Linked DNA regions of Homo sapiens. The protein of the gene in region 3 purifies or fractionates together with the protein of the main gene of each other region. This does not show direct contact. Each region holds a gene or a part of one and is shown on either strand. Other genes may lie near its edges.

Evidence for each region. The genes of interacting proteins can lie anywhere in the genome.
Region 1: the proteins of UBTD1 (region 3) and ATG2A purify together in Homo sapiens (affinity purification with mass spectrometry; one large-scale study listed by BioGRID and IntAct). This does not show direct contact.
Region 2: the proteins of UBTD1 (region 3) and SHROOM3 purify together in Homo sapiens (co-purification; one study listed by BioGRID). This does not show direct contact.

Annotation. Positions count from the first base shown.
Region 1 is NC_000011.10:64,914,363-64,918,719, forward strand, and holds the start of ATG2A (autophagy-related protein 2 homolog A), read right to left. Parts: upstream 2,848-4,357; 5' UTR 2,774-2,847; coding exon 2,603-2,773; intron 139-2,602; coding exon 1-138. UniProt on the Homo sapiens protein: Lipid transfer protein involved in autophagosome assembly. Tethers the edge of the isolation membrane (IM) to the endoplasmic reticulum (ER) and mediates direct lipid transfer from ER to IM for IM expansion.
Region 2 is NC_000004.12:76,742,699-76,746,275, reverse strand, and holds part of SHROOM3 (protein Shroom3), read right to left. Parts: intron 3,469-3,577; exon of another isoform or gene 3,376-3,468; intron 1-3,375. UniProt on the Homo sapiens protein: Controls cell shape changes in the neuroepithelium during neural tube closure. Induces apical constriction in epithelial cells by promoting the apical accumulation of F-actin and myosin II, and probably by bundling stress fibers.
Region 3 is NC_000010.11:97,505,421-97,508,997, reverse strand, and holds part of UBTD1 (ubiquitin domain-containing protein 1), read right to left. Parts: intron 1-3,577. UniProt on the Homo sapiens protein: May be involved in the regulation of cellular senescence through a positive feedback loop with TP53. Is a TP53 downstream target gene that increases the stability of TP53 protein by promoting the ubiquitination and degradation of MDM2.

The DNA.
Region 1 (4,357 bases), on a different chromosome or scaffold from region 3:
GAGCTGGAGGCCGGACACGCGCACTGTGCAGTGGTCGGTGAGCAGAGCAGCCCAGGGCACGGCCACCTCGATGGAGCCCACGAAGCCTTCCACCAGCTCCAGCGGTGACTCCATTGACTCCAGCACCTCGTTCACAGACTGGGAGCAAGCAAGAGACAAAACCAGCTCAGGGAAACCCCAAATCCCACAGGCTGGCACAGCCTTATCTGGCCATAGTGCCTTGGAGAGCACCCTTGGCTTGCCCTGTCCCTCCACGTGTTATCTACAAGGTCCCACCTATGCTCATGCTGTCCCCTACTACAGGCCAGCCCCCCTACCCCGTCACCCAAAGGTGCCTAATCCTTCAAGCCAGAGCAGATGTTTCCCTCACCACTTAATTCAAGATAATATTTACCGAGCACTTTCTACATGCTGACACTGAGACTAGATGGGTAAATAAAATGTCTTCATTCCCCAGCCAAGCTAGGCTCCAGCCAGGGACTCAGAGCAACTAGGATGAAACTCAAGAGGTGAGCAGGTGCTTGGGGGTGGTGAGGGGGCTGGTGGGGGGGCCGTGGGGAAGACGCCTAACCCAGCCTGGGCCGTCAGAGGAGGGGCAAGCTGAAGAATAAAGGGAGGGGGGATAGGCGCTGGTAGAAGGTGGTGTGTTGCAGGCACAGGACAACATGGGCACATGTATGGCAGAGTCCAGAATACCCATGTTCACCCTGGATGAGCAGAGTTCAAAGGGACAGTGTCCAAGAGAGGGGCTGACCTAATGCCAGATGGGACCCCCCCCCCCCACCACCAACCCCAAACACCTAGTGTAGCTGTGCCTCTCTGTGAGGCACAAGGCTGAGCCCCTGGCTAAAATGTCCATGCTGGAGTTGTACCCCTGCCAACCTGGAAGCTCCTGGAGGGCTGTACCCCACCTGCCTCCCCCGTCACCCCAGGTGCCACCCAGAAAGGGCCTCAGTAAACTGGTTGGATCCAAGAATAAAAAAGCACATGGCAGAGCAGATGGGAGTCCAAATTCCTCACCCAGAGACCCACAGCTCGGGAAACTGAGGCCTAGAGACAGGACTAATCTAGTCACCCAGTATACAACAGGGACTGAGACTGGGATGCGGGCCTCTTTCTTTTCATGCCACTTCAGAGGCCCCAGATACTCAGTTTCTTTGGGGGCCTTCAAGGCGGGGCCTGCAGGCTGAGCTGGGAGGGAGGAGGGGCTGGTTATCAAGAAAGCGCCTGCATTCCACCAGGGCCCTAGAGAAGCCAATTCAATCCCCAACAAGAGGGCAGGGAACAGGAGTAGGGGCGTTTTCTGGAGCTGAAAGTAAAAAGGGGAAGCCTAGGGCTGGGTATGGTGGTTCATGCCTATAATCTCAGCACTTTGGGAGGCTGAGGTGGGAGGATCCCTTCAGGGGTTCAAGGCTAGCCTGGGCAACATAGCGAAATCCTGTCTCTATAAAAATAAAAAAGGGGCAGCCTAGAGACGGCCTTAGAGGCTGAGGCTAAGGTTAGAGGTCAGAGAGGGCTTCCTACACCAGAATTCACAGACAGCAGGCCACTGGGGGGTGCCCCCAGTTCAGGGCCCACGATTATCCTACCCCACATTTGCTCACCAGGGCCTGGCCTACCCCCAAAGCCTAGCTCTTCTGCCCAGATTAGCAGCCCCCTGAGTCCAGCCACAAAACTGAGAAGTCCCTGCCTCCATGCCCACCCCTGCTGCTCTGGACCTGGTGGATCGACCAGGACGCGCCTCTAATTGGTGGCTCCTTCAAAGCTCCCCAGGTCAGCTGAGCTGTGAGTCAGGGCTCCTCACCGTTCCCAGCCTCAAGCCTCTGACCTTACACCTCTTGGCCTCCCTAGCATCTCCCTTGGCCTCCTCCCGGCTTGAAGCCAGATCTCCCCACCTTTCCTCCAGGGCCTCCCTCCAGGCAGGGACACTGAGCCGGGGGGGTCGGTGGGAGATGTAGGTGGGGGCCATCCAGTCCCTCCCTAGACACCCACTTGGCCCATCCCACTCTCCCAAAAGCAGGAAGTAGGCAGCGACCCAGGCACACGAGGTGTTGATCAACACTGGTACTGACGTACTGACGCGGTTGTTGACATACACATCCGGTGGTTTGTTGATCCCACCTACGGGCTCAGGACCGTGGGGTCAAGAGGTCAGGGCACATGATCCACAGGTGTCCTCGCCAGGGCTCCGGACCCCTACCAGCTTCCCCCACCAGCTGCGCAGGCCCAAGTCTGTCACTGCCCTGGCCCAGCTCAGTTCCTACGCTCCCTCCCCAGCCCCTCCTCAGCCCGAGAGCCAACCTCCTTAACTCAGCCCCCAAACTCGACGAGTTTGTCTTGCATTCTCCAGACAGGTGATCTTGCCCTCTCCAGCCTCAGTTTCTCCTCCCGTGGAGACAGAAACCCCTTCCCGCTCAGTTTCTGGCTCTGGTAAGGAACTGAAGAGGCCAGCCGGGGTGCCTCTGACGCCTGGAGAGGGCAAGATTCCCCTGGCCTCTCTACGCCCGGTGCCTGATCCCCCAGCCCGATCCTGCCGCAGGGAGCCTCAGGTCGCTGCGCTCCCACCCTCCGCACCTTCCTGGACTCGGGCCTGGCTCCTCACCCAGATTTCCAGGTGGATGTCTCGCAGGGCAACGCTGCCCTTGTACAGATCGAGGCTGAGCTGGTCCAGGCTGAGGTGCTCTTGGAAGAAGTGACCTAAGTAGTGGTGCAGCAAGTAGCGGCAGACCCGCTCTTTCACACAGTTTGACCATGGCCACAGCCATCGTGACATCTCGGAGACCGCCGGGCCTGGGCCGCCTCCGCTTGCCGCCCGCCGGCGATCCCCGTCCGGCTCCGCTGTTCACTAGAGCCCCCGGCTCGCCCCGCCGCTTCTCTAGGCGCCAGGCCGCGCCTCCGGACGCCCAGCCACGCCCCCTACGCTCACTGTCATTGGCTATTGCAAAGGGCGAGGCCTACTGATTGGCTGCGCGGGGCGGAGCCTTCGGGCGCGAAAAAGGGACTGGGCTCTCTGCATGATATAGGGCTCTCAATCATGATTTACGCTTGCGTAAAGTACTGTGTGGGAGGACCTTTAACCTCCCCTCTACAGGCTCTGGGAAGGCTGTTGCTCCAGGTGCCGGCCCCTCAAAGGAATGCGCATGTGCTGATTCGTCCAACCACTTTAAGTGGTTGGGGAGGATTTAAAGGGACAGTGTCCCATCAAACTTCGTAGAAGCCTTCCCCAGAGGAGTAAACTCAGTGCGCGATCTTAAGCGCGCATCTGTGGAAACAATTAAGTGAGTAAACATTCGCATTTTGCAAAATCTTTTACCATCCTTTATCTCATTGAGCCCTCTTAATAATCGCTCAAGGTAGGGATTATTGCCACCGCTTTACAGGTAAGAAAACAGATTAAGATACGAGAAAGACCCTGCCTCAAAAACAAACAAAAATAAATAAGGGCTCTGAATCCATCACCAAGGAAGGTCTTTTTTCCCCTCCTCACCCCGGAATGCTCAGAGGGAGATTAACTGACCCTCCCTTCTCTCTGCCGTCGGTCAGGCCTTAGGCACCTCTCTGAAATAATAATAGCTTTTCATATCTCTAGTCCTAAAATCAAAGAATGGATTCTGCCTCCTTTAAGCAGGGGGGCATTGTTTTTGTACGGCCTTTGAGCTAAGTATGGTTTTTATGTCTTTTAAATGGTTAGGGGAAAAATCAAAAGAAGAATGAACTTTTCATGGCATGTGAAAAATCATATGAAATTCACATTCCAGTGTTTATACATAACGTTTTAGTGTCACACAGTCTTGCTCATTTGCTTAAGTTCTGCCCCGGGCTGCTTTCTTGCTACAAGAGCAGAATTCAGTACTTGAGACAGAGGCCTGCAAAGCCTAAAATATTTATTTTCTGGCCCTTCACAGAAAAAGTTTGCCAACCGCTGCTCTGTAGGGGGCAGCCACACAAAACCTCTTACATCATGGGCGACTTCAGGAACAGCCATAGGTAATTATGTTTCTTTTCTTTTCTTTTTGAGACAGACTCTCTCTGTCACCTAGGCTGGAGTGCAGTGGCACAATCTTGGCTCACTGCAACCTCTGCCTCCTGGGTTCAAATGATTCTGCTGCCTTGGCCTCCCAGAGTAGCTGGGATTACAGGCATGCACCACCGCACCCAGCTAATTACCGTGTTGGGCAGGCTGGTCTCGAACTCCTGACCTTAGGTGATCAGCCTGCCTTGGCCTCCCAAAGTGTTGGGATTACAGGCACGAGCCACCGTGCCCGGCCTATGTTTCTATTTTATTTATTTTTTTTGAGACAGAGTCTTGCTCTGTTGCCCAGGCTGGAGTGCAGTGGTGCAGTCTCCTCTCACGCAA
Region 2 (3,577 bases), on a different chromosome or scaffold from region 3:
TAGTAATAAATGTTAAAATGAAATAAATTCATTGGATGATATTTTCAGATATAGAACATTTAACTCTTGCCTCTGTTTCCCCATTCCCAGCCTCTTTTTATTCAGGAGATGGCATGGTATAGTGACTTAAAGACTCTGCAGTCAGACAGTATGGGGTGAAAACCTCACTCTACTACCTTGGGCAAATTTTGTACCCTCTTGGTGACTTGGTTCCTTCTTCTGTAACTTAGAGATAATAATAGTATTTACCTCATTGCACAGATGTGAGGAATAATTTTATTTTATTTTATTTTTTGAGACAGAGTCTTGCTCTGTTGCCCAGGCTGGAGGGAAGTGGCGCTATCTCAGCTCACTGCAACCTCTGCCTCGTGAGTTCAAGCGATTCTCGTGCCTCAGTCTCCCAAGTAGCTGGGACTACAGATGCACACCACCATGCCTAGCTAATTTTTGTATTTTTAGTAGAGATGGGTTTTTGCCATGTTGGCCAGGCTGATCTCGAACTCCTGGCCTCAAGCAATCTAGCCACCTCGGCCTCCCAAGGTGCTGGGATTACAGGTGTGCACCACTGCACCCAGCCAAGACTAATTTTATACTTATAAAACACAGTACAATGACTGGCACACAGCAAAAATTTGATTATTGTTAGCTATTTGTATCTTCACATTTTGTGGAAAGTCAATTCTATTTTGTATAAGCTTAAATGTGTGCTTGTAGAAAGGTGCTAAAAAAGACTTATGAGTTGCATTCCACAGAATCAAGCCTATATCCAATACTGTGGTTCCATGCATTGAGCAATTTCCTCAGCAATTCAGTAATGTTTGTCACACCATCTCATAGTGATTATGTTACACATCAGACATGAAGTTCCCTGAAAATACTGTGAGAACCAGAGAAGTCTCTAACTCAGCATCCGGGGGAAATATCCCCACCAGTAATCTTATTTCTCCAAGGGTTTCTCTTTATAGTCTCTACTATATTTTAAATCTATGCAATGAACAGATATACATTTCTGTCTCTAAGGCAGAAATGTTGGCTATCTTTCTATAGCTTTGCAGGTCCTACCCACTTTTAACAGGTTAACTTTTCCAAGGTCTCACAGAAAGAAAGTGGAAACAGGCAAGAGTCTGATGTGCACTTAAGCTCCATCACTAATATCTATTTGTTCTGCAATGAAGAGGAATTAAAGGAGAGGAAAATAGAAGGTTGCATGTTTCAGAGAGGATTTCAAGCTGGCTGAGGAGAGGCCAGACCTGCCAAATACATGAGAAGGTCTCAGGCTACAAGTAGTTCAAAATGGTAGCCTCCTGCAGTCATTATTTCAGGCCAGAGATGGATCGATTGTCACATACAGAGGAACTGATTTCCATGATGACTTTGTTTTTGGAGGCAGAAAGGCCTCACTAATGAGAATTTTGAAAAAGAGCTAAATCCTTGTCAAAAACTTGTAAAATCCTGCCCTGTCAGCATCTGACTGGTAAGAGCAAGCAACATTTGTTGGAGATAGCATCAACTAAGCCAGCAGCAGAAACACACTCCACATTGTGGTTTTAACTCAGGCAGACAGTCTCTACAAGTTCACTTAACTTGTCAGAATTCTCTAAAGCAAGGATGAGAAAAATGATTGATTAACAAACCTTCCCAAAAGCTTACTGATAATGTTCTTGAAATTTATTCAATAGGAAAAATATGTATATAATAACCACAATAGTTATGTGGTGAGAGTAACTTTGTTTTATTTTTTACTCATCATAACTACAAATAAGGCAGATGATGAAGAGGATGCAAGGAGCAGACCGCCTTGCCATGAGATGCTTCTCCAGTCAGCTAAGGTCTGGCTGCTGTGCAGGAGACCAGGAGAGGGAGGAAGCTCAAGAATGCAGTCCTGGCACAGTGACAATATAAGAGACTATGCATTGTTCAGAAATTTCAGTATTTGTTGGAGCAAAGCAGTACAAAAGAAGTATTTCATTTGGAAATATTTCCCTCTCTGCCTGCATATTCCCCAAATTAAATAACATCTAAATATGGCATTCCCTTTATGAAAAGGGTGCCCAAGTACTGTTTTGTATTCACTTGTCTTTCTAAAAAGTTTTCCAAATAATACAAAGTATTTAATTGGGATTTGGAGGAATCTCTTCACTTCTCCCAACGCCTATGTTTTAGCTTTATTTCTTAATCAACCAGGCTTAAGAAATATTTGGGGGGAAAGATAAAATAACATTCATAGCCATCCAACCAACCTCTAAGACAAAATAACAATATCTAATGGGGAATAAACAATAATGATTTGGTTTTCACCTAAGCATTTTTATTTTCTTTGAAACACGGGGAGAGAAAGGAAGGTGTCTAGACTGCTATGCAGTTAAGTTGCTAAAATCCATCAAGCTAAATGAAATTGTGTGTTACATATATGGATTTTAAATGTGTGTTAGTGGTAGGATAGGGAGTGGGAATTAGCTCTGTTCATTCTGAAGGAAGGAAAAGGCTACTGAAGGCTTATGGGAAGTTGCCTCTATATTTGTCGGGGATTTATACTGGGAGAAAATATTTCTGTACAATTCTAAACAGAAAACATCTGGGAGGGGACGGTATTTTCTCTCAGAAGGAAACAGGCAAGAGTCTGATGTGCACTTAAGCTCCATCACTAGTATCTATTGTTCTGCAATGAAGAGGAATTAAAGGAGAAGAAAATAGAAGGTTGCATGTTTCAGAGAGGATTTCAAGCTGGCTGAGGAAGAGGCCAGACCTGCCAAATATATGAGAAGGTCTCAGGCTACAAGTAGTTCAAAATGGTAGCCTCCTGCAGTCATTATTTCAGGCCAGAGATGGATCAATCGTCACATACAGAGGAACTGATTTCCATGATGACTTTGTTTTTGGAGGCAGAAAGGCCTCCCTAATGAGAATTTTGAAAAAGAGCTAAATCCTTGTCAAAAACTTGTAAAATCCTGCCCTATAAGCATCTGACTGGTAAGAGCAAGTAGCATTTGTTGCTGTATGCGTGTGATAGAGTGCAGCAAACTTCTCAGCCAGAACTGCTGAATCTTTCTTTGTCTGAACTGGTTTCTTCCCATCAATGCATCCCCTCTCCCCTAATCTCTTGTCATCATGCCCATCTTTTACATCCTGGCCCAAAATCCCATTTCCCTTCAGGAGAAGCACTTTCAGATCACCTCAGAATTAATCACTTTCCTTTCCATAGCATATTATTGATCACTATTCCCAAAGCATTCACTAGTCATATTAGATTTATACATATAAGGTCGTATTCCTTGCTTAACTGTGAACTCCAGAAAGGCATGAGCCTTATTTTTTCCTTTTGTGTATCCTTTGATGCTGTAACACAGCATTTTTCATACAACACATGCTCTACAGATGCTTGCTGAATGGCTGACTTCTCTGAAAGGGAAAACAGCAGAATCTGAGAGGGGAGAGTGGAGCGGAGTTCTTCCTCCCCTGTGCTAACAGGTATGTGATTCCTATTATTGTCTTTGGTGGGAAGGGAAGCATGAGGCAGGCCCCTGGTCTACAGTGGAAGTGAAGCCTGAGGATAGGCTAAGAATTAGGGAAATTAACA
Region 3 (3,577 bases):
GGGAATAATTCAAAGTTTGCAGAGCAAGGACAATCTTTTCTTCAAGTCCCTGGCATCTGGGTGTTGGAAAGCGGAGGTTTGCTCTGGGAGAAGGAGGAGGAAACAACAATATTTGCATTCTACTTGTGTTTCTCTTTAGGAACACAATCTTGGCTGAGATTCTATTGCCTCTAGCACACCGAGCCCTCAAACAACATTCAACGCATATTTATTGAGCACCTACTATGTGCCAAGCACTTTGATCCAAGATGATGGACTCACATGGCTTCTAGGTGTGGAGGTGGTGGTCTGGGGGTGGGGAAATTAAAGGAAGAAGGGACAGCAATGTGAAAGGAAAGCAGTGGCTATAGTCCTTGGAGTTTTGCAGACTTCACAGCTGACCTACCAGCTTCTTTCCATGGGGGTGGGGTGGGAGCTGGTCAGGGCTCACAGCACAATGGAACGAGCTGTGAGCACTGGAATGAATCAACATCCTCAGGCTGAGTTCCAGCTCTGTCTCTTAGCATCATAACCACTGGCAATCCATTCATTTTCCTGGCCATCAGCTTTCCCATATGTAAAATAGGTAGGCATGTTCCCATAGGTAAAATAGGGAGAATCAAATGAGATGATGTTTGTGAAGGGATCCAGCAAAGTGGTGCCTGAAGGTGCTCAATAATAAACTCATTAAAAAACAAAACAAAACAAAAAAGCGTTCTCTTCTTCCCATTCTCATGAGGACAAACTACACACTGGCCCAAAGCGTGGGCTCTGAGATCAGACACCTGGGTTCCAGTCCCAGCTCTGCAGTTTACAAGCTGTGTGACCTTAGGCAGCAGACATTACCTTTCTAAGGCTCAGCTTCTTCATCTGTGAAAAGGTGATAACAGAATCCACCCATAGGGTGGTTGTGAGAATTAACCCAAATACTGCACGTGATGCTCCTAGTACATGGCAAACACCCTGCAAAGGTGAGCTGCTGCTAATTACATCTCTCTGAGCCTTTAAAAACAACAAAACTCCAAGTGCGCAGGCTGGAAACTAAGATTCAGGCTACTTGGTTAGTGACTGGCTGCCTAGGCACCATTCACCCTTTGCTCCTTGTCCCAAGACTTCCAGAGGAAAAACATACAAACGAGGAGTCATCCCTGTCCCTTCAGTCTCCCTCCCCACACCTTGCAGAAGGTGTTCCAGCCCCTTTCCTGCCAGGTTCCTCTCTTTTTTTTTTTTTTTTTTTTTTTTTTGAGACGGAGTCTTGCTCTGTCGTTAGGCTTGAGTGCAGTGGTGCAATCTTGGCTCACTGCAACCTCCGCCTCCCAGGTTCAAGCGATTCTCCTGCCTCAGCCTCCTGAGTAGCTGGGATTACAGGCACGTGCCACCATGCCCGGCTAATTTTTTTTGTATTTTTAGTAGAGACGGGGTTTCACCATGTTGATCAGGCTGGTCTCAAACTCCTGACCTCGTGATCTGCCCGGCTCAGCCTCCCAAAGTGCTGGGATTACAGGCATGAGCCACCGTGCCCAGGCCAATTTTTTTTTTTTTTTAATAGAGACGAGGTCTCACTATGTGGCCCGGGTTTTTCTTGAACTCCTGGCCTCAAGCAATCCTCCTGCCTTGGTCTCCCAAAGTGCTGGGATTATAGGTGTAGGCCACCATGCCCAGCCTCTATGCACAATTCTAACACACTCAGATGTCTGTTTTCCCAGAGATTTGGAGGGACTGCTCTTTGAGCCCAGCATAAATGATCACTACATGATAAACCACTTCACACTCATTAGGATGGCTATTATAAAACCAATCCAAACCTAATCAACAAAAAGCAGAAAATAACAACTGTTGGTGAAGATGTAGAGAAACAGGAACTCTTGCACCCTGTTGGTGAGAATATAAAATGGTGCAGCTGCTGAGGAAAGTGTTATGGGGGGTTATTCAAAAAAGTAAAAATAGAATTACCTTTTGATCCAGAAATTCCACCTCTGGGTATATACACAAAATAACTGAAAGCAGAGACTCAGAGAGCATTCACCTTTTGCTCCTGGTTTGCACACCCATGTTCACAGCAGTATTATTTACAATAGCCAAAAGGTGGAAGCAACCCAGGGGTCCATCAATGGAGGAATGAATAAGCAAAATGTGGTATATACATACAATGGAATATTACTCAGCCTTAAAAAGGAAGGACATTCTGACACATGCTACACCATGGAACCTTGACAACATTATGCTAAGTGAAACAAGCCAGCCACAAAAGGAGAAATACTACATGATTCCACTCATATGAGGTATCCAGAGTAGTCAAACTCATAAAAGAGAAAGCAGAATATCAGTTGCCAGTGGTTGGGGGGATGAAGAAATGGATAGTGCTTAATGGGTAAAAGAGTTTCAGTTGGGGAAAATGAAAAAGTTCTGGAGATGGGTACTGGGATGGTTGTACAACAATAAATACAAAGAATGTACTCATGCTACAAAACTATAGACTGAAAAATTTGCTGTTACATACAAGTAAATTTTATGTCATATCTAGGTAACCACTTAAAAAAAAAGAAAAAGGAAAGAAAAAAAAGAGAAGTGACTACTGTCTACCAGGCAGAAGACACAGCAATGATTGTAGGTGGAAACATGAACCCCCAAAGCCCAACAGCTGGGAACCACGTAGTTTGGGGCCCACTGCCCTAGAGTCTCACAAGCCCCGTGGCCTCACACTACTATAAGCACAGTAACTGACCGGGTAGGACTGGCTCTTCCCACTCAGAGCCTTGAACAGGATTTAAGAGCCTTCCTGCAGTGCCAGTGTTGCTACTTGGAACCTTGAGGCAGGGCACTCCCGGAGTGGGCTCTCCCCCAGCAATTTCCCTCTGCCCACCACTAGGTCCCTCCCCCACCCCAGGTCTCTTCTTTGGGAGGTAACACTTTTGAGAGAAAGAACCTTTTGTGGTCCCACTCTCACCAAGCAGGCGCTCTGTACACACCGGTATGAACTCAACAACCCCTAGTCCCAAACCAGAGGTTCTTTCTGAGCTGTATATTAATATTTTGCTCAGAAGCATATCATTCGTTTCAGAAAGATTCCCATCCAAAAATAGTTTTTAAACATTTCTTTTATAGTTTTGCTCCTTAAAAAAGAGTAAGCTTCAATGATCTAGTGGGAAAAATCACTGGCTATGGCTTTTGTGTGTAAAAATCCTGGTAGCTTGGAATAATAGAAACTTTCTAAGATCACAAAATCTCTTTTCATCCAGGGTCTCACTTTAATCTTACAACCTCTCTGAAAGGTGATCAGGGTGGCAGTCACCTCATGGCACAAATGGGGAAACTGAGGCTCAAAGAGATCAAGAGGCTTGTCCAAAGTCACACAAACAACTAGGAAGGAGCAGAGACCCCAGGCTTCATTTTCCACCAATGCCAGATGAAACTCTGTGTTGGGACCTCATATCTGAGCACACTGTGTAGCCATGAAAGTAATTTTTAAACCACCATTAGCTTATTTTATCTCCATAACATCTCTGTGAAGGAAACTGGAAATATTATCTTTTTAAAACGGGGGATCAACTGAGGAAGAAACAAATGACCTGCCCAAGATTACCACTCAAGAAAGTGG